Linked DNA regions of Homo sapiens: region 1 is linked to region 2. The links come from fine-mapping of genetic effects on plasma protein levels. A gene starts in region 2. The other region holds a variant in brackets. All regions are shown on one strand. Distances are between the middles of the regions. Region 1 overlaps NTN4 (netrin 4). Region 2 holds the start of NTN4 (netrin 4).

Region 1 (4,000 bases), 53 kb after region 2:
CCCTTCCCTACTGATATCCGCGTGCCAACTGTGGTGTCATGCACACCAAGCACAGAGCCGCCATTCAGCTCCCACTGTCTGGGCTCAGGAAGCAGAAGAGCTTCAAAGTTCCTACAGACCTTGACAGAGCTTCCTCTGGCTTTGCCTGTGCGGAACAATTCTGAGGGTGAGGGGGAGATGGAATGGGGTGAGAGAGGGAACTAGGGTAAATGTCAAGGGTAAATACGTGGCAGAGACAGAGAGAGACCAAACAGTTGCCACCGAGGCTCAGGAAAAGGAAGGGTGGGCAGATAACGAGGAGAAGGACACCACAGACTTTTCAGTGGAGCTCTTACTTGGTTAGCACTGGTGTGTCCTTTTCCATGTCCTTGCATTACTGTGGTTGATAAAATAGGAGGTAGCACTTTACTGATATCATTTAGAGCAAGGGTTCTTCCTGTCTAACAGAAATGTCAGTGTTTGGAGGTCACGTTGAGAATCAGTTCCATATAAAGCCCATAATGGATTCAATTTTTAAAAAATGCTTCGAAACAGAAAATCATGTTCTAGCTGTTGTTAAAAGAAAAAGATGTTACTTCTGTACTGACTTTTGAATATATGACATATTGTTTGTTGGAAAATTTTATTTTCTGATAAGCTTCCTTCCACCACTTTGCATGTGGATAAATGGGACAGAATGTGGTTTGAGTTTAAGATACAATGTTGTTTAAGCTTTAAAAGTTCAAAAATAGCTAGAAATACAAATACCGGTTAATCCGTTATTTCTTATTATTGTCATAATACTGGTGTTTAACGTGAAATTCAGTATGCGAATGAATTTAGACCCGACATAAGGAAGTTATTTGGAATTCTCACCTATTACACAAATGCCAAGAACAATGTTAAATTAATTAATTTGTTTACCAAAAATTTATTGAATACTTACTATGTGCCAGCCACTGTCCTGGGATACATACGTGACCGCCTACATGAAGTTTTTGGTCTGGACTGGGAAGATAGTAAATCACTAAACCACTACAAATATAATGTCAGATGGTGATAAGTACTAAGAACAGAAACCAGGCAGAGCCATTATAAGGACCTTGCATCTTGTTCTGAGGAGAATGGGAGGTCTTCAGGTGGGGGTGGTTTAAGCAAGGGAGTGACACGATCCAATCTCTGTTTATAGAGAACCACTCTGGCTACTGGCTAGACCATGAGCTGCAGAGGCCAAATGTCTGCTGAATTATTACCCTCTCCCCCACAGTTATATTTCACTGAGGACAGGTCTGTACCAGTAGACCTTGGACATGTGACACAGTCGATTCTTTCCTTTTCATACTTTTGGTATGAAATTGATCTCTAAGGTGATACTTTTATATCCAAAAAGAGAGAGTTATATTTTTAGGCAAGGTAAATCAGATATCACCTCTCTGCCTACAGTGTCCCAGTGGCTTCCGCTACAGTCAGCATAACTCTACTGTGACTTCCACAGGGCTCCATTCATGTCTATCTCACACCTGCTCTCTGTCCGCCTCTCCAGCCACTCTCTCTTTGTTCACTGGTCTCCAGTCACACTGACTTCGTTGTTCTTCCTTGAGCAAGCCAAGCTTGACTCTGCCTCAAAGCCTTTAAGCTTGCTCTTCCCTCGCCCAGAATGCTCTTCCTGGCAAGATCTTTGTATGGCTGCCTTTATCTCAAGGGTCAGGTCTCTGCTGGTCACTCAATGTATACTTCTGTGTACAAACAGGCAGCACATCTGCTCCTTAGAATAACAGGGCGGCTCTGTCCCAGGTGTGCTCAAGGTCTAAAAACTTCTTGTTATCTTATCGTTCACAGATGACATAAGGCATAAATCAAACAGGGACTACATTAGGCAAACAATTCAGGGTTTGCGCACAGTCCTATAAACGCATGGTATTTTCTTTCTCCTTACAGGTTATTTTCAAAGCTTTGTCACCACCA[T/C]ACGATACAGAGAACCCTTACAGTGCCAAAGTTCAGGAGCAGCTGAAGATCACCAACCTTCGCGTGCAGCTGCTGAAACGACAGTCTTGTCCCTGTCAGAGAAATGACCTGAACGAAGAGCCTCAACATTTTACACACTATGCAATCTATGATTTCATTGTCAAGGGCAGCTGCTTCTGCAATGGCCACGCTGATCAATGCATACCTGTTCATGGCTTCAGACCTGTCAAGGCCCCAGGAACATTCCACATGGTAGGTGAAACAAGTCCTCCCCTAAGAAAAACAAATCATAAGTTACCTTCAGCTTTGGGCATTGGTTGGTATATGCTTAACATAGTGCTGCTGATTTTTTCCTCTGCCCATCACAGCTCCGACTCCATACTCATCCTATAAAGTGCCTGTTAACTTGTCTTTTAATCTTCAGTTTTAGAGTTGTAGTCAAGCCTGATAACCAGATTCCTTGGAAAACACCCATGCCAGTTTTTAGTACTGTGACCTTCAGATATAAAGTGTAAAGTGAGCAGGAGTGAGAGGATGGCATGATTATATTAGTGGTATTATCACACACAAGCCAGCTTTGACAGTAAATGGGGACCATTGTGGAGTAGATTTTAAAGTTGGAAAAATAAGAACCTCGATTTTATGCCTGGTATCTTTGCTGTCCAGCCAGCAGAATGAATAAAAATTCTCCTCCATGAAGAGGACTGACCCCCTCTTCACCTAAGGCAGAGTTAAACTCTCTTTCCTCTAGGTTCACACATCTCCTGGGCTTTCCTCTGAATTTTTACTTCTCTGCATCCCCCAGGAGACCACGAACTCTCTGAGGAACTGTATGATCTTTGTATCCTCAGGACCAAGTGTATTACCTGGGCCAGAAGTAGGTGCTCAGTAGGTGTTTGGTTGAATGATAGCAACATAGGAATAGGGAGATGATGAAAAATTAGTGTCATTGTTTATCTGTCCTTACCTCCCCGACTTCCAGAAAAGATACAGAGTGGCTCAGCAGTAAGCACCTTGTTGGGACACATCCAGAGACTATGGATGGGGATTGGGCAAGGAGAAAATAAGGATGAGCGCTCCAATTATTTGATTTTCTATTTTGCTCTGATACTTCTGAGCAAACCAAAGCAAAATGAATAAAATGGAAAAGGCTGCAGAATATGCTACTGCATTTCCTAAAGGATAGACATCCCTATTCTTTCTTCTTTCTCTCAGCCCTAGTATACGATAGGCCACCAGCAGCCATGATCCAGTTAGCCAGCAGGACAGTTTGTGCTGGCTGGGCTGAGTCGCTGGGGCAGCATCAGGGTAACTAAAATGACTAGGACAGTAGCCAGAAAGTAACCAAAATAGAAACAGTGCTATTACTTGTAGAAGTTAATCCAGGCTCCCAGAGTTGAAGAAAATGCAGCATTCATTCAACAGATACCTGCTAGTTTCTAGACACTGATGGATCTTTGAAATCCTACAGTATTGTTTCAAATAAAGGGTGCTATGATTTAGTGTATCTCAGTTAACTGGGTTCAGGTAGGATTCAATCAGAAAATAACAAATATTTAGAGACATGTCAACCTACCAGACTGTGAACTAGAAAGTTTATGTGAGGTAGAGTGCTCAAAATATTTTGCCATGACATTTTAGTGAATTTGTGAAAGGAGAGCATGCAGATCTTTTGTTTCCTCGACTGTCTCTTATAATCCAAGCCATACAGGACCACCTCAGAGTAGAGTCCTGAGCAAAATGACAGAGGCCCCCATAACATGGCACAGGGTGGACCCTCAATATTTGTGGACTGAAGGACCTATGAGACTACCTGCATGGCTCTGATCAACCACAACAAAGTGCCAGAGTTCTCAAGGGCCTTATAAAAACTTCAGGTGGCCGGGCACAGTGGCTCACACCTGTAATCCCAGCACTTTGGGAGGCCAAGGCGGGTGGATCACCTGAGGTCAGGAGTTCCAGACCAGCCTGGCCAACACAGCAAAACCCCATCTCTACTAAAAATACAAAAATTAGCTGGGCATAGTGGTGGGCGCCTGTATTCCCTGCTGCTCGA
Region 2 (4,448 bases):
TACAAAATATTCTGAATCCATGACTGATGTTTTCAAAAACAAAATCATAGGCAATAATATACTTATCCAAGATTTTTCTTATGTAGGTAACCTTTTCTTGGATAGCTTCTTCAAAATGAAAATATCCTTTGTAACTAAACTGGACTATATAAGCAAATGATGTTTATTAGAATGCTGACTATTTTTCTCTCCTGAGCTTTTCATATAGATAGTATTGGTGTCGAATGTGCAGATTCCTTTTGAATATGGGAAATCATTGTGATATAACTGGTTTTCTCCTTAGTCCTTAGTCTCCTTAGCCCCTTAGTATATAACAATAGTTTTAACACAACTCAGTCAAAAACATGTAATGAACACTTATTGTAGGTGTTCTTGGCTAAGAATAAGGAAAAATATCAGAAAAACATAGTAATGTTTTGTATAAACTGAATATTAAAGACTGTTCTACCATTAGAGAGCTTTCTGTCTTGTTAAAGGAAATAAGAGCCAGTTATTCAGCAAAGAAATATATTATCAATGCAGGATTCGTGCAGACAGTAAATGGCTTTGAAATTTGTAATGAGATATGGAGTAGTTCTGTGATTGCTTTGGCAGCACATATGCTAAAATTGGAACAATACAGAGAAGATTAGCATGGCCTCTGCATGAGAATGGCATACAAATTTGTGAAGCATTCTATATTTTTAGCAATATATTGTACTCTTGAAAAATGCTAAGACAGTGAGTGTATTCTTAAATGCATGTTAATATGCAAAAATGCATATGTTCATTGGCTAGATTTAGTCATTCCACGCTGTATACATATTTCAAAACATCATGTTGTACATGATAAATACATACAAGTTTATTTGTTAATTAAAAAACAGAAATGGATTAGTTCTGCCTAAATATACTAGACTCAGAAGTTAATAATAAATGTGCATCCACCCCTTTGTTTAATTTGCCTTGGCTATTAAGTTAACATTTATGCTAAGAACCTTTGGCTGTTATAGTTTCCTATCATTTATTTGGTAAAAAGATTAATTGGAGAGGTGTTTCAATGGCTCCATTAGGAGATATGAAGAAAGCCCCACCATTGCCAGTATTTGGGAACTCAAAGCGTTTATTTTCTAAAGCAGGTGATGCTACATGAATTGCTGTCCACACCTTCTGCTACTTTCCTCTGTTGGCCAGAAGAATAATTTTAATGTCGCCCAAATGGATTATGCTGACCTCAACCCAGATCCCCCTGGGAGATATAAACTTCTTATATGTTCCTGGCTGGGTCATTGTAAATAATATCTACATGTATCCCAAAGCTCTGAATTATCCTCATCTGTAACAGACACAACGACTAAATGGTATCTGGAACGTAGTTAATTTTCTGGAAAATATTCAAAGGAACAAAATGAGCACTGCAATACAAAATTGCTGTCGACTTAACTTTTGCCAGTTTCCCTGGATGTGTAAGTAGAATTATATTTTCACAGAACTTGCAAAAATCTCAGACTCGGCTGCTATTTAATCTCTTTCCAGAAGCACCAGCCCTGAGCAATCCTATCTGCAATTAGCTGCGTGTGGTTGCTACTAAATTGCTCCCCATAAGTTAGTTCCTAACACTGTTTCACAGCACGGCATACTCTATAAAGGGAGAACGCTTGGAAGGACCGAAGAGTTCCCTTTGTCGTGCCCTTGCCCTGCCTCTGGACAACGATGTTCTTACACTGCCGACTAGCTAATCCTGTGACCCTTTTCTTTCAGCACCTTGAGTTTGAGTTAGGCAATACCTCTTACACCAAAGTGGGCACACCTTCGGATCATGTAGGCAGCGATTGTTTAGCCGAGACATCCCCCTACCCCCGCAAAAGGCAGCAGAGAAGCGGCGAACGCCGCTTAGCAGTTGGCGCGCTCTCAGTGCGGGTGACGCGGGGCTGGGTTGGGGTGTTCCGTCCCCGGGTCGTGGGACTCCCCGAGAGGGGGTGGCTGGAGGAGGAGGGAGGGCTTGTTTCGCTGGGGGATGTGGGAAGTAGGCGCTAGCCTGTTTCGCGGTTTTTTAAGCCCCTTGGCATGCCCTGACCTGATCTAGAGGGAGTCTACTGCTCTTAGGAATGTTCCGGGAGAAGGTGGGAGATTGCTTCCCAGGGGAGGCCTGTGGGTGCTGCAGGGCACCAGGGGGGTCACTAGGGAGATGCAGGGCGCGGGCCAGGAGGGGCGCCAGGGCAGCCGGGGGCCAGGCTGAGGCGACCGGGACCAGCGGGCAGCCGGGCGTCGGGGGCGTCGGTCGGGGCGCGGGGGACCCCCCCCCCGGGCGGCAGCGGCAGCGGCGATCCGATCCCGCGGGCTGCGCCGCCCGGGCTGTCAAGCGCGGGGGGCGGGCGGGAGGAAGGGGTGGAGGTGCGAGGGGAGGAGGGCTGGCACCGGAGCGCCGCGGCGTCGGTGCAATAAAAATGCATCGCATGGAACTGCCCGTGGAGAAGGACGGGACGGAGCCGGGGCAGCCAGAAGAGGTGGGAAAAGCGGAGGAGGACGCCCAGGAGGAGGCGGCGGCGGCGGCCGGGAAGTGAAAGGTCTCGCAAAGTTCAGCGGCGGCTGCGGGCGCCGAGCCCCGGGCTAGCGGCAGACGAGCCCGCAGGGCCGCTCCGCGGGGCAGCGCAGCCAGGCCGGCTATGGTCCCGGGGCTCCCGCCGCCCCCCAGGTGCCCGGGACCCGCCAGGCCGGTGCGCGAGGGTCACCCCACCTCCCCGCGCGGTCCCGGCCCCTGGCTCCCAGCTGCCGGCGACCGCTGACCGAGCCCGGCGCCCCAGGAGGAGGAAGAAACCAGGGCCCCGTTCCCTCCCGAGGACGGCGGCGCTTCATCCCGCAGCCCAGAGGTCTCGGCTCCCTCCGGCACCCGCCCGGCCCGGCTGCTCCCGGCTCCTCCCGGCCATGGGGAGCTGCGCGCGGCTGCTGCTGCTCTGGGGCTGCACGGTGGTGGCCGCAGGTGGGTGGTGACGCGGCGGGGCCCCCACCCCTTCCCTCGCTGCTTCTCTAACCCATCTCGGGACTCGGGGGTGCAGGGGAGCCAGGGCTGCGAGCGCAGAGCGCTGCTCCCGAGGGTGAAATGAGTGGCCATGTTCCGCCTCCTTTCCCCGGGGCTCCGCAGTTTCAAATACTATTGATTTATTTTTACAACTGGGATACACATGCGCTTGGATAACCAGCTATCCTGGGTGCGCCCTGCCGGGGATACTGCGACCGGGGTTTCTTTCTTGGTTTGGCTTGTTAAAAAACTGCTTTTCCACTTGGTGAGGGAACAAAGGACCCAGCTCGCCATCCCCCGGCACTTCATGGCCTAAGGAATGATGAGGAGGGGTGGCCCAGCGACCCTGGGCGCGCGTGGGCTGGGGCCGGTCTCTGGTAGAAGCCCATCGCTGGTGTCCCTGACCTGGTGCTGGGTACTAGAGAACCAGGTAAGGACACCTGGGGCAGGGCTGAGCGCCCTCTCCCCGGAGCAGTGACTGGAACGCAGTGGGACTCCTGGCTTGGACGATAGGTGGTGATCACCCCGGGCTTGCATTGAGCTGGCTGGCCGCCCCTGGGGAATTGGTACCCTGGCAGAGACTCTGCGGGAGGTCGGAGGCGGGTCTGCTCCCTGGCTCGGTAACTGGACAACCGGCGTCGGCGTCGGCAGATGCCCTCTCCCTCCCACTCCCATCCTGGCTTTCTTGGGCTGCCCTAGGCCACCGGCTCCTGGCTCGTGGTTTCTGTATTCGGGAGCCCCTTCTGCTCCTCTCCCTCCCTCTTGCGGGTCACCTGGTTTCCAGTTAGGCGTAAGCGCAGCCCTGTAGGTGAGGGGGAGAGATGTGAGGGAGTCTGCAGACATCCAGTCTCTCGTGCGGATCTTGACTGCTTCAGAAAGGGGCGCCTGGGCTAGAGGGATGCGCTGGTGGCTACAGAACATTGTAGCACGCATCTCCTCCCTTGGGCTTCCACTCTTCCCTGAGGGCCGCTGGCACCCAGCAAAATCCAGGCTTTCCAGTCTGCATCCCAAACCAGTCCAAGTCACAGGAGCATCCTTAGTATCATTGAATAGTCCCTTGAGTGACTCCAAGTATTTTGCCCCATGGATTCTTTATCTGGCTCAAATCTTTTCTGGACTTAGGAGTTTAGGGGCATTTAAAATTATTGGATATTTTTCCCAGGGACCTATTAAAGGCCTAAGATTTTACTTTAATTCTTGCACTCTTAAAATATGAGCTTTAAAAAAAACCTTTTCCTTCTCAAACCATATTATGGCAAAAACATGCAAGCCATTGAAAGGTTGTAAATAAACATCACAAGGCAAGTGTTTCAAGTCAAAAATACTTGTACAGGCAGTATATGATTTTCCTTGAAATTTTTTACAGGTGAGTCATAGCACATTGTGTGTTTGTGTGCTTCTGGCCACAAGCAACTGTTGCCCCAGCTAATGAGAAAAGTGGCAAACAGAA

The links. A credible set is the group of variants that fine-mapping cannot tell apart. PIP is the chance, under the fine-mapping model, that this variant and not a neighbour inherited with it causes the effect. Protein levels are from the aptamer-based SomaScan assay of Sun 2018.
Region 1: its variant is the best candidate, but not a certain one, in a credible set for the plasma level of the NTN4 protein (Sun 2018, PIP 0.69). The variant lies in the coding sequence of NTN4. If it changes the protein, the assay may bind it differently, which can mimic a change of level.

Annotation. Positions count from the first base shown.
Region 1 is chr12:95,736,062-95,740,061 of GRCh38, reverse strand. NTN4 (netrin 4) reads left to right here. Exons shown (of 10, transcript NM_021229.4): 3 at 1,918-2,196. Among named protein-coding and RNA genes, the nearest start is that of NTN4, 53 kb to the left of the region's middle. The variant T/C (reference allele first, on the strand shown) is at 1,945.
Region 2 is chr12:95,788,766-95,793,213 of GRCh38, reverse strand. It overlaps NTN4 (netrin 4), which reads left to right and starts at 2,450. Exons shown (of 10, transcript NM_021229.4): 1 at 2,450-2,959. The coding sequence starts at 2,905. It also overlaps the pseudogene RNU6-247P.